Linked DNA regions of Homo sapiens. The protein of the gene in region 7 interacts with the protein of the main gene of each other region in a pairwise test. Each region holds a gene or a part of one and is shown on either strand. Other genes may lie near its edges. The genes, in order: ASB15, MEF2B, MIF4GD, CDR2L, GRIPAP1, HAP1 and HDAC4.

The links.
Region 1: the proteins of HDAC4 (region 7) and ASB15 interact in binary tests that used the Homo sapiens proteins (3 or more experiments, as listed by UniProt).
Region 2: the proteins of HDAC4 (region 7) and MEF2B interact in binary tests that used the Homo sapiens proteins (3 or more experiments, as listed by UniProt).
Region 3: the proteins of HDAC4 (region 7) and MIF4GD interact in binary tests that used the Homo sapiens proteins (3 or more experiments, as listed by UniProt).
Region 4: the proteins of HDAC4 (region 7) and CDR2L interact in binary tests that used the Homo sapiens proteins (3 or more experiments, as listed by UniProt).
Region 5: the proteins of HDAC4 (region 7) and GRIPAP1 interact in binary tests that used the Homo sapiens proteins (3 or more experiments, as listed by UniProt).
Region 6: the proteins of HDAC4 (region 7) and HAP1 interact in binary tests that used the Homo sapiens proteins (3 or more experiments, as listed by UniProt).

The regions. Positions count from the first base shown.
Region 1 is NC_000007.14:123,615,321-123,618,820, reverse strand, and holds part of ASB15 (ankyrin repeat and SOCS box protein 15), read right to left. Parts: exon of another isoform or gene 3,421-3,500; intron 2,601-3,420; coding exon 2,548-2,600; intron 2,458-2,547; coding exon 2,326-2,457; intron 1,244-2,325; exon of another isoform or gene 1,243-1,243; coding exon 1,084-1,242; intron 1-1,083.
Region 2 is NC_000019.10:19,167,464-19,171,617, reverse strand, and holds the start of MEF2B (myocyte-specific enhancer factor 2B), read left to right. Parts: upstream 1-1,354; 5' UTR 1,355-1,413; intron 1,414-4,154. UniProt on the Homo sapiens protein: Transcriptional activator which binds specifically to the MEF2 element, 5'-YTA[AT](4)TAR-3', found in numerous muscle-specific genes. Activates transcription via this element. May be involved in muscle-specific and/or growth factor-related transcription.
Region 3 is NC_000017.11:75,265,728-75,268,231, reverse strand, and holds the end of MIF4GD (MIF4G domain-containing protein), read left to right. Parts: intron 1-39; coding exon 40-149; intron 150-330; coding exon 331-486; intron 487-601; coding exon 602-694; coding exon of another isoform or gene 695-781; intron 782-1,264; coding exon 1,265-1,492; 3' UTR 1,493-2,004; downstream 2,005-2,504. Other genes in the region: MRPS7 (small ribosomal subunit protein uS7m), read right to left, coding at 2,309-2,504. UniProt on the Homo sapiens protein: Functions in replication-dependent translation of histone mRNAs which differ from other eukaryotic mRNAs in that they do not end with a poly-A tail but a stem-loop. May participate in circularizing those mRNAs specifically enhancing their translation.
Region 4 is NC_000017.11:74,997,632-75,001,131, reverse strand, and holds part of CDR2L (cerebellar degeneration-related protein 2-like), read right to left. Parts: intron 1,629-3,500; coding exon 1,516-1,628; intron 1-1,515.
Region 5 is NC_000023.11:48,985,265-48,988,764, reverse strand, and holds part of GRIPAP1 (GRIP1-associated protein 1), read left to right. Parts: intron 1-566; coding exon 567-644; intron 645-887; coding exon 888-980; intron 981-3,362; coding exon 3,363-3,497; intron 3,498-3,500. UniProt on the Homo sapiens protein: Regulates the endosomal recycling back to the neuronal plasma membrane, possibly by connecting early and late recycling endosomal domains and promoting segregation of recycling endosomes from early endosomal membranes.
Region 6 is NC_000017.11:41,731,844-41,735,974, forward strand, and holds the start of HAP1 (huntingtin-associated protein 1), read right to left. Parts: upstream 2,801-4,131; 5' UTR 2,792-2,800; coding exon 2,323-2,791; intron 956-2,322; coding exon 876-955; coding exon of another isoform or gene 852-875; intron 552-851; coding exon 387-551; intron 276-386; coding exon 94-275; intron 1-93. UniProt on the Homo sapiens protein: Originally identified as neuronal protein that specifically associates with HTT/huntingtin and the binding is enhanced by an expanded polyglutamine repeat within HTT possibly affecting HAP1 interaction properties.
Region 7 is NC_000002.12:239,048,021-239,051,520, forward strand, and holds the end of HDAC4 (histone deacetylase 4), read right to left. Parts: 3' UTR 148-3,500; downstream 1-147. UniProt on the Homo sapiens protein: Responsible for the deacetylation of lysine residues on the N-terminal part of the core histones (H2A, H2B, H3 and H4).

The DNA.
Region 1 (3,500 bases), on a different chromosome or scaffold from region 7:
TGTTCATGATTTATCCAAGTTTGCTTAACAATATTCAGGTTTTCTTAATATTAAGGTTGTTTAAAATTTTTTTTTAAGTGATTCCTCTGTGAACAGGAGCTGTGATGGTTCTTAACTAGTTATGACCTTTAACGTCTTTCTCTGTGATTGCTGGTAAATAATCTTACATCCTTTCCTCCCTCTCCTCCTGCTCCTGCTCCTCTTCCGTCTCCTCCTCCCGCCACACAGACAACTTCATAATGGCTCTTCCCTCTTGAACATCTATTAATGTGAGAGCTTTTATATATTTTTTCTCTAATTTTCCTCACAATTCTGCATGGTAGGTGTTGTATTTCCATTTTATACTTGAGAAAACTGAGGCCCATGATTGCAATTCACAGCTAAGATTTAAACCCAGTGATCTCACGTGCCAACACCACATTCTTACTCCACCACCCTGTGTCCCTAAGAGAAAGGAAATGTTATCTCTGGGTCATTTGGAGTTAATCTTATCACTCTCTGCTTTCACAAACAGACTTGCCAATTCTTATTGTTCAGCAAATAGCGGGATATACAAGACAGAGCTGGTAAATGTCACCTTCAGATTTCCCATTCTTCCCTCGTGTCACAGTGTACCCCTCATAGGTGCCATGCTCTGCATCTGTGTGCTCAGAATCTGCTGGCCTCCCTTCCTTCCAGGTTCGCCTGATCAGTCTGATGTGAACTTGATGTCTCCCTTTGGAATCCCTTTCCACCTCTTGCTTCTGGCTACATATGGCACATGCAACCCTCCTTACAACTGGATCCTACCTAGAGAATATTCCTTTAAAATTGCTATCTCTGGCTTCAAAAAACTAATTCAGATCCCTCCTGGTTAGTTGCAGTCTCTACAACTGGATACTGAAGGATGTAGCCATCTTTCATATTTGACATCCTTGTGGGATAGGAAAACAAAATCACAGGACAGAAGACATGGGGGTTAGGCAAGTAGCTCAGGGAATGGAAGGAACTGAGATCACAATTTTAGCCATTATACAGTGGTTTCCAATAAATACTTATTCTTTGTTTCAAACTATAAAAGTTCTAGAAAAAAAGGTCATTTACCAATCAGAAGGGGGGTCTCTCCTTTATCATTTTTTGTGTTGGGCCACACTCCCTTTTCTAATAAAGTTCTTACATTTTCCACCAGACCAGCTTTGACTGCCAAAGTCAAGGGTGTTTCTCCATCACAGGTCTTGAATTCCCAGAGTGTCTTATAGGATGCTGTGACATGAAAGCATTATGTTGAAAAGTTGAAAATACTCACTTATAGGATATTACACAAATCAGAGCAATCCAATATTATATACATCGGATTGAACAAAGTCAATTGATGAAAATGAAAGGACTTTGACAAAAGTTTACCAAATGACGGTGAGGATAAAGTAGATGCACATGGACTTGCTAATCAAATTGACAGCTAGAAAACCAAAAATCTGTTTCTAGCTGCTTTTTTGAAAATGATGTGCTAAGTCTCATTTCTTGATACATTACAAAACAATGTTTCAATCCTTTGTATTATAATTTATATTGTAACTGAAATTGTTTTTTTGTGAAATGAAATCTGTGAATGTGGGAATGGAGAATGTACTTGAATGTAGGTATCGCTGTGTCAAAATGATCCTTAACATCATCTATATCTGTCTGTCTGGCTGTCTAGTTTTCTAGATGGCTGGCTTATAATCAAGTATGTATCTCCCAGAACATAGAGCTGTCATGCAACAGTGGAAGCTGAACGATAGGGCACTCTCAAAAGTGTTCTGTAAGATGCTGAGATGTGAAAACACTGTATTAGAACATAAAAGTTACTGTTAATATTTAACAGTGGCTTGATTTGCCATAATATTTTTTAATGCTTACATTATGAAAAAAATCAATGTAATGTAAAGACCAGTATTGTCAGTACTCCCTGTTGTACTATATAAGAATCTTTTGGAAACTGTTAACTCAAGAGATAGTTCAAAATGAAAAATTTAAAATTGATTTCCAAAAGAAAAGTGTTATATATGACTCAATTAATTCATGATATATAGAAACTTTTATCACTTTTATGTGATAACCACATCTTTCCACCAACCTGTGTCTCATTCATAGGTAAAAGGATGCAAAAGGTAAACCCCCAATGTCAAAAAAATTCCTAATTTTTATACTCTGAGTTTAAAACATGGGTGCTGCCTTTTTCAAATTCCAAATAATATTTTAATCTGCCTTTTCTTTCTGCTAGTTATGTTCACTGAAAACACTTATAACATCAACATATCAACATTCTTGCTCTGGCTTGGTCAAACATGTTTTATGTTCTCTTACCATCCAGAACAATCTCAAGTATTTGTTGAATGGGTTGAACAACAGCTTCATGCAATGGAAACCATCCTTTTTCATCAGCTTCATCCATTGCATATTTATATTTTACATACTCCTGGAGCTCAGGAATGTGACCTAAATTAAACACATGGACTGATGACTAATCTCTGTTTTTGCAAGGTGGAATCTCCAGTCCATCCCACTGTAGATAGTACACCCATTTACCTTGTTTTATGGCCTCCACAAGTTTTCTGTTTTGAGCACTTAGGGGTACAAATCTATGAGATAAAGAAAAATAATATTTATACTAGATACTAGTGATATAGTTCAAGGAACCAAACATTTTAATTTATATTGCATTTTTAAACTTAATTTTAATAATCAAGATCCAAAGGAGATGCATATAATTGATTTTATCTCCTTAAAAAGTAAATGTATGGGAGTCAGACACAGAGTATATTTATGATGCATTGATCTAAGAATATTAGTGAAGATGGCAAAATAGAAGATTACAATGCTATCTCTGAGATATCTCAAAGCAATAAAAAAGGAGTAAACAATTGGAGTCAGATTCAGAGGAGCTAGGTTCAATTCCCAGCCTGATTTTGTGATTCTGGGGAGGCCAATTAGCCTTTCTGGATGTGGGTTCTTCATCTGCAAAATGATGGAATTAATAGAAAGATCTCTAGGTTTTTCTAATTTTAAACACTCTATGCTCAAAAAATGTTTTTTGCTTTGAACTTAATAATTGCTAATAAGATACTTACTTGGGAGCTTATGGTCTAAACTACATATGCGAGTTTTAAATCAACTGTTCCACAAGTGAAAATAGGCAGGGCATTTACTGAACAAACTCCCAATCACTGGCCCAGCAGGTCATGATTTAAACCCTCATGGAGGTTTTCTGGTGTGTGTGTTTGTTAAGTGGAAAGAAGGAATTCCATAACAAATTTACTTAACTCTGTTAAGCAGAAACATCTGCTAGCATACCAGGGTTGTGAATGCCTTCCAGGAAGCTCTGAAGTTCTAAAGCTTGTTGGAGATAAGGGAGAAATTCCAGACCAGAAATTTCAGTGTACTACGTCTATTTTTTCAAAGCTCAAAAGCAACAATTTTTAAACACTGGATCTCTTCAAAAGTACTACTAAATTCCAGAATACAAGATTTTAAACACTATA
Region 2 (4,154 bases), on a different chromosome or scaffold from region 7:
GTAATCTCAGCACCTTGGGAGGCCGAGGAGGAAGGATCTCTTAAGCCCAGGAGTTTGGGACCAGCCTGGGCAACATAGTGAGACATCCTCTCTTAAAAAAAACAAAATTAGCTGGACCTGGTGGTGGCCTGCCTGTAGTCCCAGCTGCTGGGGAGGCTAAGTTGGGAGGATTGCTTGAGCCTAGGAGGTCGAGGCTGCAGTGAGCTATGATCATGCCACTGCACTCCAGCCTGGGCAACACAGTGAGATCCTGCCTTGAAGAAAAAAACAAGAAAAACCTTTCTCCTAGTGGCAAACTCCTACACATACTTGAAAGCCCAGCACAAATGCCCTCTCTTCTGAGAAACCCTCCCTGACTCCTCTGGCACAGCCCTTGCCCCAATTCTGGCCTGTCCCAGCCTCCCATCCCTCCTCTGGCCCAAGCCTGACCCCACAGGGTTAGGGGAGTGCATGGATCCCCTGCCTGCCCCAGACGGGCCGGGGGCTTCTCCAGAAGTGCCCATCCCAGAGCCATCTTTATCCTGTAATTCTTTTCACATTGATACATTCACCAACCCCTGCTCTGATCTTCCTGTGGGTCTGGCCTGTGCTGGGATCCCAGGGGAAGGGGTGGATTTAGAGTTCTGGGCTGGGGTCCAATCCTGGAAGGCCCCTCACAGCTGACCTTTGAAGTTTAGAAAACAGCCTTTAGCGGGGAGAGGTAAGGAGAGGGAAGTGGTTGGTGGAAGCAGTGTGGTTGTCTTGGACTGTGGAGGGGCAGGCGGTGCGGGCTTGAGGGACCAGTAGCTGCGGAGGGTCTGTCACTCCCTGTGGGAGCACATATCTGGCCCCAGGAGGCACAGTTGAGTGAGGCCACACAGGCCACCCGAGAGCCCCGTCTTGCAGTCTTTCCATTCTAGCGAGCGCGAGGGTCAGCGTTGCCTGCGAGAAGGGCTTGGTTCCTCGGGGCGACGGGGTCCGGGATCGGAGTCTATTTCACTCAGGATGGAATCAATCCAGGCAAGTTGGGCCGAGTTAGGAAAAGGTTTAGAATTAGGGTTAGGGTCACAGTAGGGTCAGGGGTCGGCAGTAAGGTCAAGGGCGCCCAGTGAGGGCGGGGAAAGCCTGGCCAGTCTGATCCAGCCCCCTCCCTCCGTTCTGCTTCTTCCTTATCCGCGCCCCCACCCATGGCGCCCCAGCATCCTTTCGCGTCTGAGTCCCAGGCCCATGAACTCCCGGGTCGGGGCCACGCCCAAGTGCACGCCCATCGCCGCCTCCAGGGTGACGCCCTGTATGCAAATAAGCCCGTCCCGCCCAATCAGCTCCCGGGGGCAGGACCGCCCGCTCCCAAGGCACCTGCGGCCGCGGGCCCCTGATCTTCGTGCAGCCGCCGCGGGTCCGTGCGCCCAGCGTCCCAGGGCCCAGGCCGAGCAGGTGCGTGTCATATCGGGTTGAGACTCCTGTGGTGTCCTCTGAACGGCTTCTGCGGGCTGGGTGGGTTTTGGAGGTCCGGGTGTACTGCTGGGCGTCCCAGGGTGGGGTGTGTGTCTAAAGGGGTGTGTGTCGTGGGGTGGTGAGTCCCCGAGGTTGTGGCAGGAGGGGGTTGTGTCTCCAAGGGGTGTGTGTCTGAAGGGTGTGGGTCTGGAAGTTGTGTGTCCAAGGGCTCTGCGTCTGAGATTTGGTGTGAGTTGGGGAGTTGGAGAGTTAGCTGTGTGTCCAAAATCATGGTGCTGTGAGGCCCTATTATGTGTCTGTGAGCTCTGTGATGTGGCATGTGATGTCCCTCTCTCCTGGTGTGCACTCCTTTAGCATTAGCGCATCCCCTGTGCACAACCCTATGCCTTCTTGCTGTGGGTGTACACTCGTTTGTCACAGCAGGATGGTAGGCACAAAACCTTGGAACGGGGGAGCAACAGCTGCCGGGGCCAACTCTCCTCCCTTTGCCTCAATGGGTACAGGAACAAGAGTCACATCCCCGTGTGGTTGTTAGCACATGACAAGGTGGTGGCAGCATTACTTTCACGGTCACAGTCCTCCCTCCCTATCTCTTTTGGGGTCCAGGGCTGCAGATATGGGTGACCTGTGTCCTTGGCCACCCTAACCCCTAGTTGCAGACCCAATTAGTCAGAAATAGCTGGCCGGGCACTGTGGCTCATGCCTGTAATCCCAGCACTTTGGAGGCTGAGGCAGGAGGATCACTTGAGCCCAGTAGTTTGAGACCAGCCTGGGCAACATAGTGAGACCCCCATTTTCTTTTTCTTTTCTTTTCTTTCTTTGTTTTTTTTTTGAGACAGGGTCTCATCCTGTCGCCCAGGCTGGAGTACAGTGGTGATCTTTGTTCACTGCAACCTCCAGCTCCCAGGCTCAAACAATTCTCCTCCCTCAGCCTTCTAAGTAGCTGGGATTACAGGCGCGTGCCACTACCGCCTGGCTAGTTTTTGTATTTTTAGTAGAGATGGGCTTTCACCATGTTGGCCAGGCTGGTCTTGAACTCCAGACCTCAAATGATTCACCTGCCTCAACCTCCCAAAGTGCTGGGATTACAGGCGTGAGCCCCTGCACCTGGCTTTAAAAAAAAATTTTTTTTGAGACAGAGTCTCACTCTGTCACCCAGGCTGGAGCGCAGTGGCTCAATCTTGGCTCACTGCAACCTCTGCCTCCCAGGTTCAAGTGATTGATTTTCTGCCTCAGCCTCCCGAGTATCTGGGACTACAAGCGTGTGCCACCATGACCAGCTAATTTTTGCATTTTTTGTAGAGACGTTGTTTCACCATGTTTGCCAGGCTGGTCTCATGTGATCTGCCTGCCTCAGCCTCCCAAAGTGCTAGGATTACAAGAGTAAGCCACCGCATCTGGCCAAAAAAAATTGTTTTTTTAATTAGGCAGGTGTGGTGGCTTATGTGTATAGTCCCAGCTACTCGGGAGGCTGAGGCAGGAGGATCACTTGATCCGAGGAGTTCGAGTCTGCAGTGAGCTATGACTGAGCTACTGCACTGCAGCCTGGGTGACAGAGCAAGATCCTGTCTCTAAAAGAAAAACAAAAAGAAAGAAAAGAAACAAAAAAATGGCCAGGCGCGGTGGCTCACACCTGTAATCCAAGCACTTTGGGAGGCTGAGGCGGGCGGATCACCTGAGGTCAGGAGTTCGAGACCAGCCTGACCAACATGGAGAAACCCCATCTCTACTAAAAATACAAAATTAGCCGGCCATGATGGTACATGCTTGTAATCCCAGCGACTCAGGAGGCTGAGGCAGGAGAATCGCTTGAACCCAGGAGGCGGAGGTTGTGGTGAGCGAAGATCGTGTCATTGCACTCCAGCCTGGGCAACAAGAGTGAAACTCCATCTCAAAAAAAAAAAAAAAAAAAAAAGAAGAAAGAAACAAAACAATAATCAAGGCCTCAGGCTAGCCTGGCCAAGAATCATCCCTGGGGAAGGGCAGGGCCCCTGGACCTTGGGCATTCGGGACAAGAACTCTCAGACTCTTGGAGTGAAGGAAACTGGATACAAAAAAGTATTTCGACTTCGGAGAACCAGTGTGTGAGGACTGATTTCCAGAGATGAAAAGGGCTTTCTAAAAAGGCAGGCTTGTTCCCTCATGTCCCCTTCCTGTTGTTCAGTAAAGGGGGAAGCTTGGCCTCCAGCAAACAGAATTTCAGGACAGTTAGGATCTTGGGATGTCATCTTAGAGAGCAGGAAGCTGGTTTGCAGGAGGGAAGGCTGAGGCCAGGTAGTAACACTAGGCCCCTCAAAAAAGGATGGAGCTCAAGGCCATGCCTCAGTCCCCCAAGAGAACAGAGGCTGGGGTCACGAGGCCCAGCTTCCTCTCCCTCCTCTCTGTGTGACCCCCCAACAGGTGGCTGCCCCTCTCTGAACTTTGTGGCAGCTCCTGTGAGCGGAGCAAGCTGAACCCACTCTTGGCTTTCCCATCCCAACGAATGATTTATTTGGTTAAACTATGACCCAACCAGGTGGACATCTGGAAAATGCAAATTAAGAAGAGAAGGGGAATTTAAAACATTTGCTCACCCCAACTTGGGTGCAGTGAGTGTAGACATGTTGGGTGTTTGGCCTTCTGGAAGAGGTTTCTTTCTTTCTTTCTTTCTTTCTTTGTTTTTGAGACAGCATCTTGCTCTGTTGCCCAGGCTAGAGTAAAGTGGTGTGATCTCAGCTCAC
Region 3 (2,504 bases), on a different chromosome or scaffold from region 7:
AGCAGCAGCTCTAGACTCCCCTCCTATCTCTACCCCTAGATCCGGGTGCTGTGGACTTGGAGAAAGTGGCCAATGTGATTGTGGACCATTCTCTGCAGGACTGTGTGTTCAGCAAGGAAGCAGGACGCATGTGCTACGCCATCATTCAGGTTGGGGGTTGGGAGAGGAAAGGAAGCTGCTTTGAGGAAGGTGCTTCAGGAGTGGGCAGAAGGCCTGGCCTGCAGGACAGAGATGCACAGGGTCTAGCTCAAAGAGAGAGAGAGGCATAGGATGGGTGGGGTTACAGGGGCACCGCCCCCCACCCTTCACCTTCCTCTCCCTGGCTCACAGGCAGAGAGTAAACAAGCAGGCCAGAGTGTCTTCCGACGTGGACTCCTCAACCGGCTGCAGCAGGAGTACCAGGCTCGGGAGCAGCTGCGAGCACGCTCCCTGCAGGGCTGGGTCTGCTATGTCACCTTTATCTGCAACATCTTTGACTACCTGAGGGTGAGGCCCCGGCAGCCACCCTGGGAGGCAGACATGGCCTGTTTCCTGAGGCCCAGGTTGGACTGCTCCCCTTGGCCACTAAGCCTGGTGCTCTGACCCCTCCTCTTCCTCACAGGTGAACAACATGCCCATGATGGCCCTGGTGAACCCTGTCTATGACTGCCTCTTCCGGCTGGCCCAGCCAGACAGTTTGAGCAAGGAGGAGGAGGTGGGTGGCCCCAGCCCTGGCACAAGCACAGAAGGCTGCAGGATGGACAGTCCAGCTCAGCCGTGTGTCAGCCCACTGCTCACGGAGGTCTCTGAGGACTGTGTCACTTCTGGGGCAGGACTGTGGGGGTGTTTAAGGCCTGTCAGTTATAGGACAAGCTGCCAGGTCTGGAGTTTATCCAATAGAGAGCAGCCAAAACCTACTGGCTCAGTAGCTTCCTTCTCAGTCAGAAAGCCAACGTATGATGGCAGCTGTGCAAGCCATGGCTAGCTGTGGGTACAGACGGCCCCAAAGCCAAACCAGGGTCAGGCAGTGTGTGGGAGGCAGGAGAGTGGGATGAAGAAGTGGTTTGGAGACAGGCTTGAGTGGAGCCTGGCCAGATGAGGGACCTCAGGCAAGTCCCGGAACTCATTTCTTTCTGTGTAAGATGTGGAAGTACCCACTGGATGGTAAGGAGGGAGCAAGGGAATGAGTGTAAAGGCAAAGCACAGCACCTGGCACTTGGCAAATGCTGTGTGAGAGGCTGGCACTGCCCCAGTTCACTTGTGTTACCCACACTGTCGCCTGCAGGTGGACTGTTTGGTGCTGCAGCTGCACCGGGTTGGGGAGCAGCTGGAGAAAATGAATGGGCAGCGCATGGATGAGCTCTTTGTGCTGATCCGGGATGGCTTCCTGCTCCCAACTGGCCTCAGCTCCCTGGCCCAGCTGCTGCTGCTGGAGATCATTGAGTTCCGGGCGGCCGGCTGGAAGACAACGCCAGCTGCCCACAAGTATTACTACAGCGAAGTCTCCGACTAGGCCTCCAGATCAGGGCTTCCTCACCAGCACTGGCCTTTCTTCTACCCACCTCTAAAGCTGGCAGTGGAGTCTCTGCCTCACCCAAAGACTTTTCCCTTCCAGACTTTGAGTGTCTTCCCTTCTAGACTTTCCCATCTCCTGGTGAGATGTTTCCCACTTATGCCGTGGTCCTGCCCTGAGCCCCTTTCCCCACCACAACCCACCACGGCCAGGCAGAGAAGGGCAACTCCCAAGAGCCACTGCACTGTGTAACCATTAGTGCAACTACTACCTTGGTGCCTCAGTTTACCCATCTGTAAAATGGGTAAGCATAGCCACTGGTGGGATATTTTGGGATGTCAAGGGGTGGAGGCAGAGCACAAGTCACACCAGAAACTGCTTTTTATACATTTTGTATAAGGACAACTCTGGAAACAAGCCTATTTCCTCCAGCCAGTTTCACTGAATGCTGCACCACATGCTACACCAGTTCAGCGTGAGAATTTTCTAATAAATCTTTTCTGATACTAAAACTGCTTCCTTTATATATCCAAAGGTCCGCCCCAACCTAAGGGAAGAGAAAACAGCCCTGAGTTTCCTGGAGGAAATTCCCAAGTCAATGTGCTCCCTCTTTACAAGGAAATAGGGGCAGAGAGAGCAAGTTCCAGCCTCAAAGAAAGAAGGATTAACGGATAGTGAATATGCTGCTACATCTTTCTTACGAGGCCTGCCCACCCTTACAAAGGAACTACATCCTTAACCCACAGGTAGTTTTCAGCGTGGCAGTAGCTCACACTGTTTCTTGCGGCAGAGGGCCCTGGGCTCCTCCTGGAGACTCTACCACCAGCGGTAGTGGGCCAGGGCACGGTTGGCCTCTGCCATCTTGTGCAAGTCATGCTTCCTCTTGATCACGGGGCCCTGGTTATGGAAAGCCTCCAGCAGCTTGTGTGACAGCTTCTCCGGCATCAGTGTCCGCTGGTGCTTTTTATCCCGGCACTCAGTGATCATCCACTTCATGGCTAGGAAGCGGCGA
Region 4 (3,500 bases), on a different chromosome or scaffold from region 7:
CTCCTGAGTAGCTGGAACTATAGGTGCCTGCCACCATGCCTGGCTAATTTTGGTATTTTTAGTAGAGACAGGGTTTCACTATATTGGCCAGGTTGGTCTTGAACTCCTGACCTCAAGTGATCTGCCTACCTCTGCCTCCCAAAGGGCTGGGATTATAGGCATGCACCACCACGCCAGCCTCTTTTTTTTTTAAATTAATTAATTTATTTTTTTTGAGACGGAGTCTTGCTCTCTCGCCCAGGCTGGAGTGCAGTGGCGCGACATCGGCTCACTGCAAGCTCCACCTCTTGGGTTCACGCCAACCATTCTCCTGCCTCAGCCTCCTGAGTAGCTGGGACTACTGGTGCCCACCACCATGCCTGGCTAATTTTTTGCATTTTTAGTAGAGATGGGGTTTCACCGTGTTAGCCAGGATGGTCTCGATCTCCTGACCTCGTGATCTGCCCGCCTTGGCCTCTCAAAGTGCTAGGATTACAGGTGTGAGCCACTGTGCCCGGCCTTTTTTTTTTTTTTTAACTTCTAAAATCTTTTTTATGCCCGGCGTGATGGCTCACACCTGTAATCTCAGCACTTTGGGAGGCTGAGGCGGGCAGATCACGAGGTCAGGAGATGGAGACCATCCTGGCTAACACAGTGAAACCTCGTCTCTACTAAAAATACAAAAAAAATTAACCGGGTGCGGTGGTGGGCGCCTGTAGTCCCAGCTACTCAGGAGGCTGAGGCAGGAGAATGGCGTGAACCCGGGAGGCAGAGCTGCAGTGAGCCCAGATCGCGCCACTGCACTCCAGCCTGGGTGACAGAGTGAGACTCCATTTCAAAAAAGAAATAAATCTTATTTATTTTATTTATTTATTTTTAAGACAGGGTCTCGCTCTGTTGCCTAGGCTGGAGTGCAGTGGCACAATCACGGCTCACTGCAGCCTCAACCTCCAGGCTCAAGCAATCCTCTCACTTCATCCTCTTGAGTAGCTGGGACCACAGGCTTATGCCACCATAGCCAGCTAATTTTTGTATTTTTTATAGAGACAAGGTTTCGCCATGTTGCCTGGGCTCAAGTATTTCACCCACCTTGGCCTCCCAAAGTGCTGGGATTACAAGCATGAGCCAGCAGCCCCTTCTCCCCTTCTAAGGACAAGTTTGCTTTGATGTATTTGTCTTCAGCTGAGTGGGGCTTAAAAATGGTGGTTCAGGCTGGGCCTGGTGGCTCATGCCTGTAATCCTAGCACTTTAGGACGCTGAGGTGGGAGGATCACTTGAGCTCAGGAGTTAGAGACCAGCCTGGGCAACATGGTGAGACTTGGTGTCTATTTAAAAAAAAAAAAAATCTAGTTGTGCAATAGGGCTGCCTGAGATAGCTGTGCTATCCTTGTACAGGATAGCACAGTTGTGAACTGTACCAGGCTATTGGGCTAAGGCTGTGTCCGATAAGCTGGCACCTTATTCTAAGTTGCATAAAGGCACACACAGGCCAAGGGGCCCTCGAGGGGTGTGGGCAAGCACATGCAGGGCCCTCACCTCGATCTCCTGCACCTGTTCCTCATTGGTGGAGTACATCTGCTGCAGGGACCCCTCCAGCTCCTTGTTCCTCTCCAGCAGAGTCTTCCCCAGCTCCGCAGCTAGGTGCAAGTCTAGGATAGGAGAAACACGAGCATGAGAACAAAGGCAGAGGACGCCCATTCATGTTCCGAGCATCTACTCTAGGTGACCCCAATGTAACCAAGACACTGGGAGCCTCCAGGCCTGGGAGGAGAGGTAAGCCAGGAGCTAAGCCTTTGCACTGTTATTTCTGCCTGGAATGTTCTTTTTGTGTGTGTCTGTGTGTGTGTGTGTGTGTGTGTGTGTGCAAGATGTAATAAAAAACAAACAAAAATAGGAATGGTTGCTTTCAACATTTTCCAGGTTGTGAAAGTTTTGCCACGATTCTCAGGGGTGTGGTTCTAAGCTGCATCAGTGGAACAAATACAAAATGCTGTCCTCCTCCTAGGCTGGAAGGCAGTGCACCTTCTCCTCTTAACAGCCAGACTAGCGGGTGAGGAGTCAGTGCTGTGCCCAGGCCAAGCTGGAGTGTCCGCATGGCTTCTTCTCTGACCAGTGGGGATTCCATCTACCTTGAGGCATGCTGGCTGGGCCCTGTTTCCACACCAGCGCATGGTGAGACAGCGTAGCTTATCAACAGGCTGCTGGGCCTTAATACTGACAGTGAGTGTGGCGGATCACAGCCAGGAAGGGACTAACACAGATGCCCTCCCAGCCCCACTGCTGGCCTAATTTTAGAATACCACGGAAAAAAGCTTTGATGAAGACAACAGGAAGTCAACACAGCAGAGAGTGGTGTGGACAACCCAGAAGCCAGCCTCACGCACGGAATATTCTTTCCTGATACTTCCAGGACTTGTTCCCTCTTCTCCTTCAAGTCTGTGCCTGTCAACTTCTCTAGATCTTTCCCCAATCACTTGATTCAAAGTCACACTGTTCCCTGCCCTGCAGTCTCTCCCCCGCTTCATCTTTCTCCTTAGCACTTAGCACCATCTAATTTCCCAAGCAAGTTACTCCTTTATCTTTTTCAGCTCCCCCAACTAACTGTGAGCTCATGGGGCAGTTTTTTTTTTCTTTTAAGGGATGGGACCCAGGCTGGGGTGCAGTGAGTATTCACAGGTGTGATCATATGTGCTGCAGCCTTGAACTCCTGGGCTCAACGATCTTCCTCCCTCAGCCTCCCAGGGCAACATAGTGAGACCTCATCTCTATTAAAAAAAAAAGAAAGGTGGTGCAATACGGCTGCCTGGGATAGGATCCCTTGAGCCCAGGAACTCAAGGCTACAGTGTATATGATCATGCCTGTGAATAGGCGTGGGACTATAATATCGGTTGCTGGGACTACAGGAATAGTACAATGTTTTTTTTTTGAGACGGAGTTTTGCTCTTTTTGCTCAGGCTGGAGTGCAGTGGCGCGATCTTGGCTCACTGCAACCTCCGCCTCCCAGGTTCACGCTAACCATTCTCCTGCCTCAGCCTCCCAGGTAGCTGAGACTACAGGCGCCCGCCACCATGCCTGGCTAATTTTTTTTTATTTTTAGTAGAGACGGGGTTTCACCGTGTTAGCCAGGATGGTCTCAATCTCCTGACCTCGTGATCCACCCGCCTCGGCCTCCCAAAGTGCTGGGATTACAGGCGTGAGCCACCGTGCCCGGTACTTTTTTTTTTTTTTTTTTAACTTCTAAAATCTTTTTTATGCCGGGATTACAGGCACCCACTACCACGCCCGGCTAATTTTTTGTATTTTTAGTAGAGAGGGGGTCTCACCATGTCGGCCAGGCTGGTCTTGAACTCCTGATCTCAGGCCTCCCAAAATGCTGGGATTACAGGCATAAGCCACCACACCTGGGCTAAAATTCTTAAATTTTTTTTGTAGAGACAGGGTCTTGTTATATTGCCCAGGCTAGTATTGAACTCCTGGCCTCAAGCGACCCTCCTACCTTGGCCTCAAAATGCTGGTATTA
Region 5 (3,500 bases), on a different chromosome or scaffold from region 7:
CAGAGTGACAGGTGAAGGGGTCAGTCTGAGAGTTCACCAGGACCTGGAAACTAGGAGGTTGTGAGTTTGAGACCTCTAGGATCTGGGACTATGAGTTTGGGTGGATCTCACCTGGGAAGTAGGGACGTGGGAGATGAGTGTGTCTGAAACCCCTGGTGGTTGGGATTGGGAGGCTGGGTGAAACTGTCATCCTTGGGTGCTGACTACATCTGAGATCCATGGGGCTGACTGTGTCTGAGAATCCTGGAGCTCCCAAGCTAGAATCTGGGTGAGCATGAGACTTCTTATGGATGGGAGCTGAGTGAGTTTGAACCGCGTAGCAGCTAGGGCCAGGAGTCTAGTCGTGCCTGAGATCTTGTACGCTGGGATAGAGGGGTTGACTGTGTCTGAGGCCCCTGAGGGTAGTGACCTGGCGTCTGGGTGAACCTGAGATTGCTGTTGGCTGGATAGTCTGAGACCCACAGGTGCTGAGAACATGCTGCTGGGTGGTCAAACAGAGAGTCTGTACGGTTATATGCACCCCAGGAGAGGCTGAGGTGTAAAATGGGCTCCCCTGGTCTCCACAGAGCTTGGCAGAGCTGAGAGATCAGCGGCAGGGGGAGCGCCTGGAACATGCAGCAGCTTTGCGGGCCCTACAAGATCAGGTATATTGTACTGCGTGGGCTCAGGGAGCTGGGGTTCAGGATGGGGGCAGCCTGAGTGGGTACTACATAGTCAGGCAAGGTCCCAGGGATCCTGCTTCCCCCAGGCCTTCGTGTGTGTGTGTGTGTGTGTGTGTGTGTGTGTGTGTGTGTGTGTGTGTGTGTGTGTCCTTTCTTTCTTGGTCGTGGGTAGGTCCTGTCCCCCTGTTCTGGACCCACTCTCACCTGCTGTGGACGTGGGGCCAGGTATCCATCCAGAGTGCAGATGCACAGGAACAAGTGGAAGGGCTTTTGGCTGAGAACAATGCCTTGAGGACTAGCCTGGCTGCCCTGGAGCAGGTAAAGAACACCTGGGGGCCCTTGCTGATCCCTCTCCAGTTCCCCCATCTCCATCTGCTTCTGGTCCACATCAGGGTAGGGTGGTCTGGACCCCATGCTGTTCTCCTGTCTTTGTTTCTGTTGCTCCTTTCTGTTGGCGTCCAGCCCTCTTCTCTCTGGCCATCCATCCCTACTTTTTTTTTTTTTTAACTTTTAAAAATTTTATTGGGGAGGCTGAGGCAGGAGAATTGCTTGAACCAGGACCCAGGAGGCAGAGGTTTCAGTGAGCCGAGATCGCACCACTGTACTCCAGCCTGGGCGACAGAGCAATACTCTGTCTCAAAAAAAAAAAAAAAAAAAAAAGGGCGTGGTGGCTCATGCCTGTAATCCTAGCACTTTGGGAGGCCAAAGATGTGTGGATGGCCTGAGCTCAGTTCAAGACCAGCCTGGGCAACACGGTGAAACCCCATCTCTACTAAAATACAAAAAATTAGCTGGGTGTGGCGGTGTGTGCCTGTAATCCCAGCTACTCGGGAGGCTGAGACAGGAGAATCTCTTGAACCCAGGAGGCGGAGGTTGCAGTAAGCCGAGATCGTGCCATTGCACTCCAGCCTGGGCAACAGAGCGAGACTCCGTCTAAAAAAAAAAAAAAAAAAAAAGCCGGGCATGGTGGCTCAATTCTGTAATCCTAGCACTTTGGGAGGCCGAGGAGGGCGGATCACCTGAGGTCAGGAGTTCGAGACCAGCCTGACCAACATAGAGAAACCCCGTCTCTACTAAAAATACAAAATTAGCTGGGTGTGGTGGTGGGCACCTGTAATCCAAGCTACTCGGGAGGCTGAGGTGGGAGAATTGCTTGAGCCCAGGAGGTGGAGTGTGCGGTGAGCCGAGATCGTGCCATTGCACTCAAGCCTGGGCAACAAGAGTGAAACTCTGTCTCAAAAAAACAAAAAACAAAACGAAAAAAAACTTATTGGCCGGGCATGATGGCTCACACCTGTAATCCCAGCACTTTGGGAGGCAGAGGTGGGCGGATCACCTGACATCAGGAGTTTGAGACCAGCCTAGCCAACATGGCAAAACCTTGTCTCTACTAAAAATACAAAAATTAGGCCAGGCGCAGTGGCTCACGCCTATAATCCCAGCACTTTGGAAGGCTGAGACGGGCGGATCACCTGGGGTTCGGAGTTCGAGACCAGCCTGGCCAATATGGTGAAACCCCGTCTCTACTAAAAATACAAAAAAAAATAGCTGGGCATGGTGGCGCACACCTGTAATCCCAGCTACTCGGGAGGCTGAGGCAGGAGAATTGCTTGAACCTGGGAGGTGGAGGTTATAGTGAGCCGAGATTGTGCCACTGCACCCCAGCCTGGGTGACAGAGTGAGACTCCATCTCAAAAAAGAGAAAACAAAATTATTTTGTAGAGACAGGGTCTCACTATGTTACCCAGACTGGCTTAAACTTCTGGCCTCAAGCTATCTTCCCACCTCGGCCTTCCAAAGTGCTGGGATTATAGGTGTGAGCCACTGTGCTTGGCCTATCTCTGCTTTTTTTTTTTTTTGTAGACGGAGTTTCGGTCTTGTTGTCCAGGCTGGAGTGCTATGGCACGATCTCGGCTCACTGCAACCTCCGCCTCCCAGGTTCAAGCGATTCTCCTGCCTCAGCCCTCCCAAATAGCTGGGACTACAGCCGTGTGCCACCATGCCCAGCTAATTTTTGTATTTTTAGTAGAGACGGGGTTTCACCATCTTGGCCAGGCTGGTCTCGAACTCCTGACCTCATGATCCACCCGCCTCGGCCTCCCAGAGTGCTGGGATTACAGGCATGAGCCACCGCGCCCGGCTTCTGCTTTTCTTTGTTTCTAGTTTCTCTCTAGTAAAGTGCATGAAATGTACTAATCTTAAGTGTACACTCAGTGAATCCTCTCTTCGTCTCTCTCTTTTTTTTCTCTCTCTCTCCCCGCCACCATAGCCACCACCCAGATCAAAGTATAAAGCACTTTTAGTACCCCAGAAGGTCCCCTTTACCCCTTCAAAGTCAGTACTCCCCCAGAAGTAACCATTATTCTGATCTCTAGCAACATAAGATTCATTTCGCTTGTTCTTTAACTTCATATAAATGGAATCAGCTGCTCTTTGTCTCTGACTTCTTTCTGGCAGCACTATGTAAGTTTATCCACGTGGCAGCACAGATCTGTTCTCTTACTGTTGTGTGGTATTCCATTGTATGAACATACCACATTTACCCATTCTCTTCATTGTTTTTCTGTTTGAAATTTCCTCTCTCTTCCTGGTTCTCTTCCCACCTCCCTCCCTGTTTCCCTGGAACTAGGGGGCTCATACCCTGTCCCTGGCCCCTGGGGTCCCTTTCACTCTACTTCTCATCACCACTACTTTCTCCAGATCCAAACAGCAAAGACCCAAGAACTGAATATGCTCCGGGAACAGACCACTGGGCTGGCAGCTGAGTTGCAGCAGCAGCAGGCTGAGTACGAGGACCTTATGGGACAGAAAGATGACCTCAACTCCCAGCTCCAGGTA
Region 6 (4,131 bases), on a different chromosome or scaffold from region 7:
CCTGCCAGCAAGCACATCACCTGTGTCCCTCTTAACAAATGAGGAAATTGAGGCTCAGAGAAAGGACTTGCAGGTGCAAAGGCAGGAACTCACAGCTTAGGGGCATCACAGGGATGAGCACACTGCAGGTCTTCCTCTGCTTCTTCTTCTTCCTGTTCCTCTTCTGCCTCCTTTTCTTCCTCCTCCTCTTCTTCATCCTCATCCTCCTCATCAGAATCTGAGTAGAGCTGGAGGAGCTCATCCCGCAAGTTCACCTGGTGTCTGAGGTATAAAATCTGGCAGGAAGAGAGAGGAGCCATGGGTTGGGAGTGGGCAGGGACAGGAGAGGGTCCTGGCATGAGGCAGGTGTAGATTGGCCCGCTATCCTCTCCTCCCCACCCGGTTACCTCCTCCTTGGCTGAGCCCAGCAGGGCTTCCAGCTTGCTGTTCTCCTCCATCAAAACACTGTTCTGTTTCACCAGGGACTGGCCGATGCGAGCTGCAGTGTTCAGGTCCCTCTCTCTCTGCAGGACCATCCCATAGGTAACGCTCTCCCAGACAGGTGGGAGAAGCTGGGGGGGACACAGGGGTCAGAGAGAGGCTAGGCCCCTAAGAGAACCTTCCCCATCCCCTAGTTCTCTAGGGTACCAGACCAGAGTCTGCCATTAACCCACTGTGGAACCTGGCTCAGTTTCCCCTCATGGAAAAAGAAGATCAGACCAGATTGGCTCTGAGAGCTCTTCCAGCCTGAACATCCCACATCGACCTGTCTTCCATAAGAAGGACCCTAACCTGGGGCCCCAGAGAGACTGCCAATCAGGAAATAAACAAGACCCCCACCCCTACAGGACAAAACTAGAATAAGGGCTTGCCTGGATCAGGAAGGCAGTACACACCTCCTCCAGCAAATATAACATCACTTTGACGTCTTCCTGGGTGATCTTTTTGACTGGCGGAGGTAGGTTAGGACACAGTGCTGCAGGAGGCGGCAGGTGGGGAGAAAAGGCCCAGCCAGGTCAGGAAAAAGGAGCAGATGCTACCAGCAAACAGCTGTTTCCCGTCCTATCGTCAGTTCTCCAACAAGGGTCATCGGGAGAGAAGACTGGGCTCCCCTCCTGCCCCCCACATCCTCCCCTTACCCCTCGGCACTCAACACTCCCTTCCCTGCTCCCAGGGCCAAGTGGACAGGGTTTTTAGGTTTTTGGGTTTTTTTTGGTTTTTTTTTTTTTTGGTTTTTTTTTTTTTTTAGACAAAGCCTTGCTCTTGTCCTCCAGGCTGGAGTGCGATGGCGAGATCTCAGCTCACTGCAACGTCTGCCTCCCAGATTCAAGCAATTCTCCTGCCTCAACCTCCCGAGTAGCTGGGGTTATACACGCCCGCCACCACGCCCAGCTTATTTTTGTATTTTTAGTAGAGACGGGGTTTCACCATGTTGGCCAGGCTGGTCTCGAACTCCTGACCTAGTGATCCGCCCGCCTCGGCCTGCCAAAGTGCTGGCTGGGATTACAGGCGTCAGCCACCGCGCCCGGCTTTTTTTTTTTTTTTTTTTTTTTTACCCCTGGAGGAGCCTGAGGTAAGGGGGTCACAGTCCTCCAGGCTCAGAAACTGGGCTCTCCGGACACCTGGGTCCCTGGCGCCTAGAATGGAGACAGCCAGGGGAAGTACAGCCTCAGACTGGCTCATCACCCCCTACCCAGGAGGCAGTGCAATGGAGTCTCCTGGGTCATACAAACAGACGCAGCCACTCACCCTGCACCTGTTGCGTGTGCAGAGGACAGGAGGAAGACTTCACCAGATTAGGAGACACTCGAGCCTCTAGGCCCAATCCAGAGATCTCCCCCGACCCGCAGGAGGATAGGAGAGACAAGGGGCAGGAAAAGAGCGCGACTTTGCCCCCATACCCGCAACCAAAAAGTGGGCAAAACTTCCCCCTCCGCCCGCCCACCCACCCCTCCATCGCACGCAAGCCCGGTCGGCCAGCGCAGACTCAGAGCGCGCGGGACAGCGCCCTCCCGCAGCCCCCCGCCCCTCTCCTGGCACTGCGGTAGACCCAGGAGAGGGGCGCTGAAGGGGTGCAGATCTGCCGCAGCAAGAGGCGCGTGGAGGTGGGTGGGCGAGCGTGCAGGCCCCAGAACCTGACTCACGGGCACAAACCAGGGGACAAGAGCAGAGGAGGAGATGGAGAAGGGGCGACCAGACAGACACCGCAGTGACATCGCGGGGGTGGTGGACGGGTGACACTGAGTGCTAGAGGGGGCGGGGTGCCTGGACCCGATGGGGCCACTTCCTCCCTGGAGTTGCCCCAGTCCCCACCCGGTCCAGGACCCCGGGGGCCCGATTTACCTTCCTCCAGCTCCCGAATAAAGGCGGCGCGCTCAGGGCCGGACACCCCGGGTCGCCGGCCAACGTAGGCGGCTGGCGTCTTCCAGATGCCCGCTGCCTTTCCAGTCCCCCGGCCAGTGGCCCGGGAACCAAACGGCCCTTGGAATACGAAGCGGGTCCACGGCGCGTCCGAATTGTCGGGCATAGACCGGACATCCCCTTGGATGGCCGAGAATGCGGACGGGCGCCGGGCTCCTGCCTTGGCTCCAGCCTCCGAGGCCGGGCGAGCTCCGGTGCGGGCTTCCGAGAGGAACTGGGATCCAGAGGTGGCTCGGGATCCTACTCTCTGTCCAGTGCCCCGTGCCTGCGGCTGCGCAGAGGGCTCCGGAGCGGGACTGGCTGAGGGCGAAGGTGCACAGGTGAGTGCTGCTGGGTCCCCGGGTCCGAGCCGGCTCCCCGCGCAGCACCGGCCCAACCTCTTCGGGCGCATCTCGAGTCTGCCGTCCGCTGCTGCGGCGGGACCTTTATAACCTGCGCCAGCCGCCGGGCCGGACCACGCGTAGGGGTGGGGGCTGCCGAGAAGCAACTAGTGGCAAGCGGGACTCAGAGCCGCGCGGGAGGGGAGCTAGTGGTGACGGAACAGAGCACAGTAAGAAAAGCAGGGCAAGAAGGGCGAGTGCAAGTTCCGGATGGCTCCGAGTTGGGATGGGAGCGAAAGATTTTTTCTGCCCTCTCCATCTCCGGAGAATGGTTCTGCCCAAAGCCGCGGCTGCCCCAGCACTCGCGGGTCCCTGGCTGGGGGCAGCCCCTCCCCAGCTGCCGCGCCGGGGTTTCGGGTGCCTTCCCTGGTGTAGAAGCTGCCAACCCAACGTTGTGCATACGGTCTGGGGTGGCCAGTGCATTAGGGCAGCGCTGCGTCTTTCCCGGTTGACTGGGAGAGACATTCCAAACTCCAGTGCGCTTCCAACGTGCTGCAACCCTGCCTGGCGCTGCAACCCTGCCTGGCGCTGCAACCCTGCCTGGCGCTGCAACCCTGCCTGGCGCTGCAACCCTGACCCTCGCGCTCACACCCCAGTGCTCGCGCCACTCGACGTCTTCCATTTGATTGGATTAACTGTTCTTCACCTCCAACCCTAGTTCGCTTTGCCCTCCTCTTGCCATGCTGGCGAACCCCTGTTCTCCTTGGGAGACGCCTCTTAAAAGTCTCCCTGTAGCCGGGCGCAGTGGCTCACGCCTGTAATCCCAGCACTTTGGGAGGCCGGGGCAGGCGAATCACCTGAGGTCAGGAGTTCCAGACAAGCCTGGCCACCTGGTGAAACCCTGTCTCTACTAAAAATACAAAAATTAGCCAAGCATGGTGGCGTGTGCCTGTAGTCCCAGCTACTCAAGAGGCTGAGGCAGGAGAATTGCTTGAACCTGGAAGGTAGAGGTTGCAGTGAACCGAAATTGTGCCAATGCACTCCAGCTGGGGCTACAGAGCGAGCCTACCCCTCAAAATAAATAAATAAATAGAATACTTTTTTTTTAAGTATCCTACTGGAAATGTTGGGTAGACAATTAGATGTATAAATCTGAATGTAGGGGAGAGACCGGGCTGGAGATTTAAATGTAGGAGTCATTGTTCTTTGATGACCATTTAAAGCTATGAGACTGGTGAGATCCCCAAGAGACTGAGAGAAGACAGGTAAGAGCGCCCAGGACTAACCCCCTAGGATTCAGAGGGCAGAAAGAAGAAGAGGAGGCATCAAAGGAAGACTGGGATGAGTGGGGCAGTGAAGTAGAGGAAAACCAGGAAAGTTGGGTCCTAGAAAGTAAAGAAAATGTTTCATG
Region 7 (3,500 bases):
GGTCTGGGTCTAGGGGCCGTCCCCATGGGGTCCAGTGATTCCCATGCAGCCATCCGGATGGGACCCAGGGCACTGGCCATTCGGCCCACAGGGTCCCAGACATGCGAGAGCCAATGAGGAAGAGAGCGCACGGGCAGAAACCAGAGCTGGGAGGGCAAGTAACGCAGTCTTTATTTACACCACAAGATAACACGTTGCGTGATGTGGTACAGAATACTGGACTCCAGTGAAGTGGAAAGAAGGTGACCGTCAGAAGAGGATATCATTGGTCGGTGAAAATCCACCCACACAAAACAAGACAAGAATGAGAAAACCAAACACAAAACCTCCAACTCCACTGAGCAAAAGAAAGAACCATCGGGCACGTCCAGACAATCCAAGAGAAACGGATTAAATTACAGAGGTGAATGGTGGCCACGGCCAGTGCGCAGCTCACGGCGGGCGCGAACAGGCATCAGGTAGGTTACAGTGTCGTTACAACTTGGTTTTCTACCACATTCCGTAAGAAGCTCTTGGGTGAGTAAGGTTCAAGCCCCCTGTATAGATAGATAGATAGATAGATAGATAGATAGATTATATATGTTTGTCATTCTCATCAATTGGAAAATAGCGCCTCCACTATGGAGCACACACGGCAAAAAAAACAAACAAAAACTGTTCGCTTTCTTTTTCTTTCAATAGCAGACTTTTAATCAATGCCAGAGACAAAGTGAGGCCGAGCTAAGAACACGCTCAGCTTCGTTACAATGAAGAAATGGTTTCCTTTCGATGCAAAGTATAATTGTAAACCACAGTGCTCGCACAGTTCACGACTGCTTAAAGTGAAATCTTAGCCATACATCACCTAAAAGTAATTAAAAAGTCAACACAGCTGTGCGGAAAAGGGGACTCTTTCGAGTCCGCCCAGTTCTCAATCAGAATAAACCGTCACAAGGCCAGTGAGGGCGGGCGGCGCTCGCCTGGCCCGTGGAAGGAGATAAAAGGAAACAAACAAAACAAAACAAAACAAAATTCCTCCAAATCAACTCGAGAGAGACAGGCAGTTCACTGTGAATTCTGAGTAGTTTCCCTAAAACACTGTTTCCACATAAATACAATAAACTCTATTATTGGTATGTCACAAGTGCTAGATAAACTTTTTTTCTTAATATGACAAATGTTTAAGTAGTCCTTTTTATTTTTCTTACAATAAAAAGTACAATTTCTTAAGAATAAGTTCAATAAGACGCAAACTTCCCCGCCCTCCTCTCCTTCAAGGTTTTGTTTTACAGAAAAATTTCCATCTTTTGTATCTGCAAATGTCATGAGAGGGGAACAGAAAGGCATTTTTCTTCTTCCCCAAAGCTGCCGAGTTTGGCGTGCAAAATCTGTATACAATATAAAGTCATGCCGGTCGTACAGTCCATGCAACCTCCAGGTGTAGGAAACTTAAAAAAATATATTCATATATATTTATATCTATATATTTATATATGTATCAATGCCCATAAAACACGTGGGCCCAAAGTCTACAAAAAGAAGAATGGAATGAGCACGTGGCTGTGACCAGTAAAGAAGGAATGTTCTGATCAAAAAGAAAAACAACAAAGTCCATTGCTAGTGCTGCAAAAATCAAACTTGCTTTTGTGTCAGACCATTACGAAATGGTCCTTCCCCTTGCAAACAGATTTTCAAAAGAAGTAAAGAAAAACTGAAACACCTTGACAAAGTGGCCCTCCAGAACCAGAGCCCTGGGACGCTGGGGAGGGGCGGCCAGTCCCAGCGGGCCACGGCCTCCGGGACAGCCGCCTGCTGGTGGGGCGTGGGCACGTGGGCACGCTGCGGCACGGCGGGAAGCCGCGAGGGCAGGGCAGACGCCAAGAGGCCCAGTGGCGTCATCAGGGTTTCCCTCAAAGGGATATAAAGTGCTCGCTTGCTGACTCCCAGCCAGTGCCCCCAAGGCCTTTGCAAAGGAAGAAAAAGGCTAAAGGTCCAAGGACCCACAGGGAGAACACATGAAGGAACCCTCCCTGACGTGGTCCCGCCTGCAGACGCCGAGGCAGATCCTCTGCCATCTGCCCTGGACGCTTGCTGTGGAGAAGAGCCGAGTGTGTCTTCAAAGAAAAGGCTACACAGTAATGCTCTCAGCACATTTGTGAAGCTGGAGTGAGCTGACAGATGAAACGTGCCTCCCCCTGCCAGGCCTTTGCAGAGGGCGTCTCCATTTGAATGAGATTAGAATTAAGTCCCCCCACTGATAACCTGGCCACTGAGCAGTCCATGTTATCCCATCATCTGCTTAAAAAAAAAAAGTGAGATGATGCATTCCTCCCCATAAGCCACGGCGGGGTAAGAGGGCAGGTGGCAGGATCCCCAGAGGGCTATGCAGAGAATGAGGCCAAGGAGGCCAGAAGAGCCTGCTAGCTGGGCCCTGCCACTGCTCTGTGCCATGAATGGGGAATGGACCAGCTCCTCTTGCCAATCTGGGCTTCAGAGCAAAGAGTGGCCACCAGGGAGGGGAAAGTCAAACAAGTCCCAAGACCGTTCTGCCTGCTCTCAAACCACTGTCTCAGAGCTGACCATCAGCAGCCCAGTGACCAAGTGAATCCAAGAATCTGCACTCATTTGGTCAAAAGTTTGAGTTAATTTCAGAAGCTACCCTGTAAACTTTACCAAACTCCGAAACTCGGCTCTGGGTCCCTCCTGAGCACGGTGTGTCTGAACTTCTGCCCCCAAGTCTGAACCCAATATACACTTTGGAATGAAACTGGTGGCTTCATGTGCTGGAAAATAAGTTACCAGTAAAACGTGACTGTCAGTTACTGTTGAAGAGAAAAAGAGTAAAGACTGGCTGTCCTGGTCAGGCAATCATACCCTCCCTGCAGGTTCACCAGGCAACAAGGGTCCCTGGGTTCCTTGCAGCCACAGGCTCCAAAATCCAGGGCTGGCCACGTGGCTGCAGTGGAAAAACCCAAGTGGGTAAAGAGCCCCACGTGTGCCCCATGCATTGCTGACATGCTCAAAAGGTCTTTGGAAAACTCAAGTTAGAATTCTATCCTGACGATGTGGTCAGAGAAGTTTAAACATGAGTTTCATTAATGCTGACTGCCCCCGGCATCTGGCAAGCCTCCCAGGGTGGCCGGGCATCCTAAGCAACCCTCCCTGCCCTTGCCACGGAGGGGAAAAACACACCACCCCTCGTAATACTACTAGTGTTGAAAGTTAAAAAGAGCCCCTGGGCTTCTTTATACAGCTCCTAGGACAGACCAGGAAAGACACAATCGTTGGTGTCACTCCGAAAAGACCTACGGTCCCTCCTCTCACTTTCTGAAAATAGAATCTGACAGCAACAATTCTGTACGCTGCAGAAAACTCATCGTACAAAAATAAAAACAAAAATAATTAAAAACCTTTGAAAGGTAAAAAAAAATGTACAAGCAAGAATTCAGAAAGGAAAAAGATTTAGACATTATTACCATTCAGAAAATTGCTAAATGGTGAGGAAAAATGTAAAATTCATA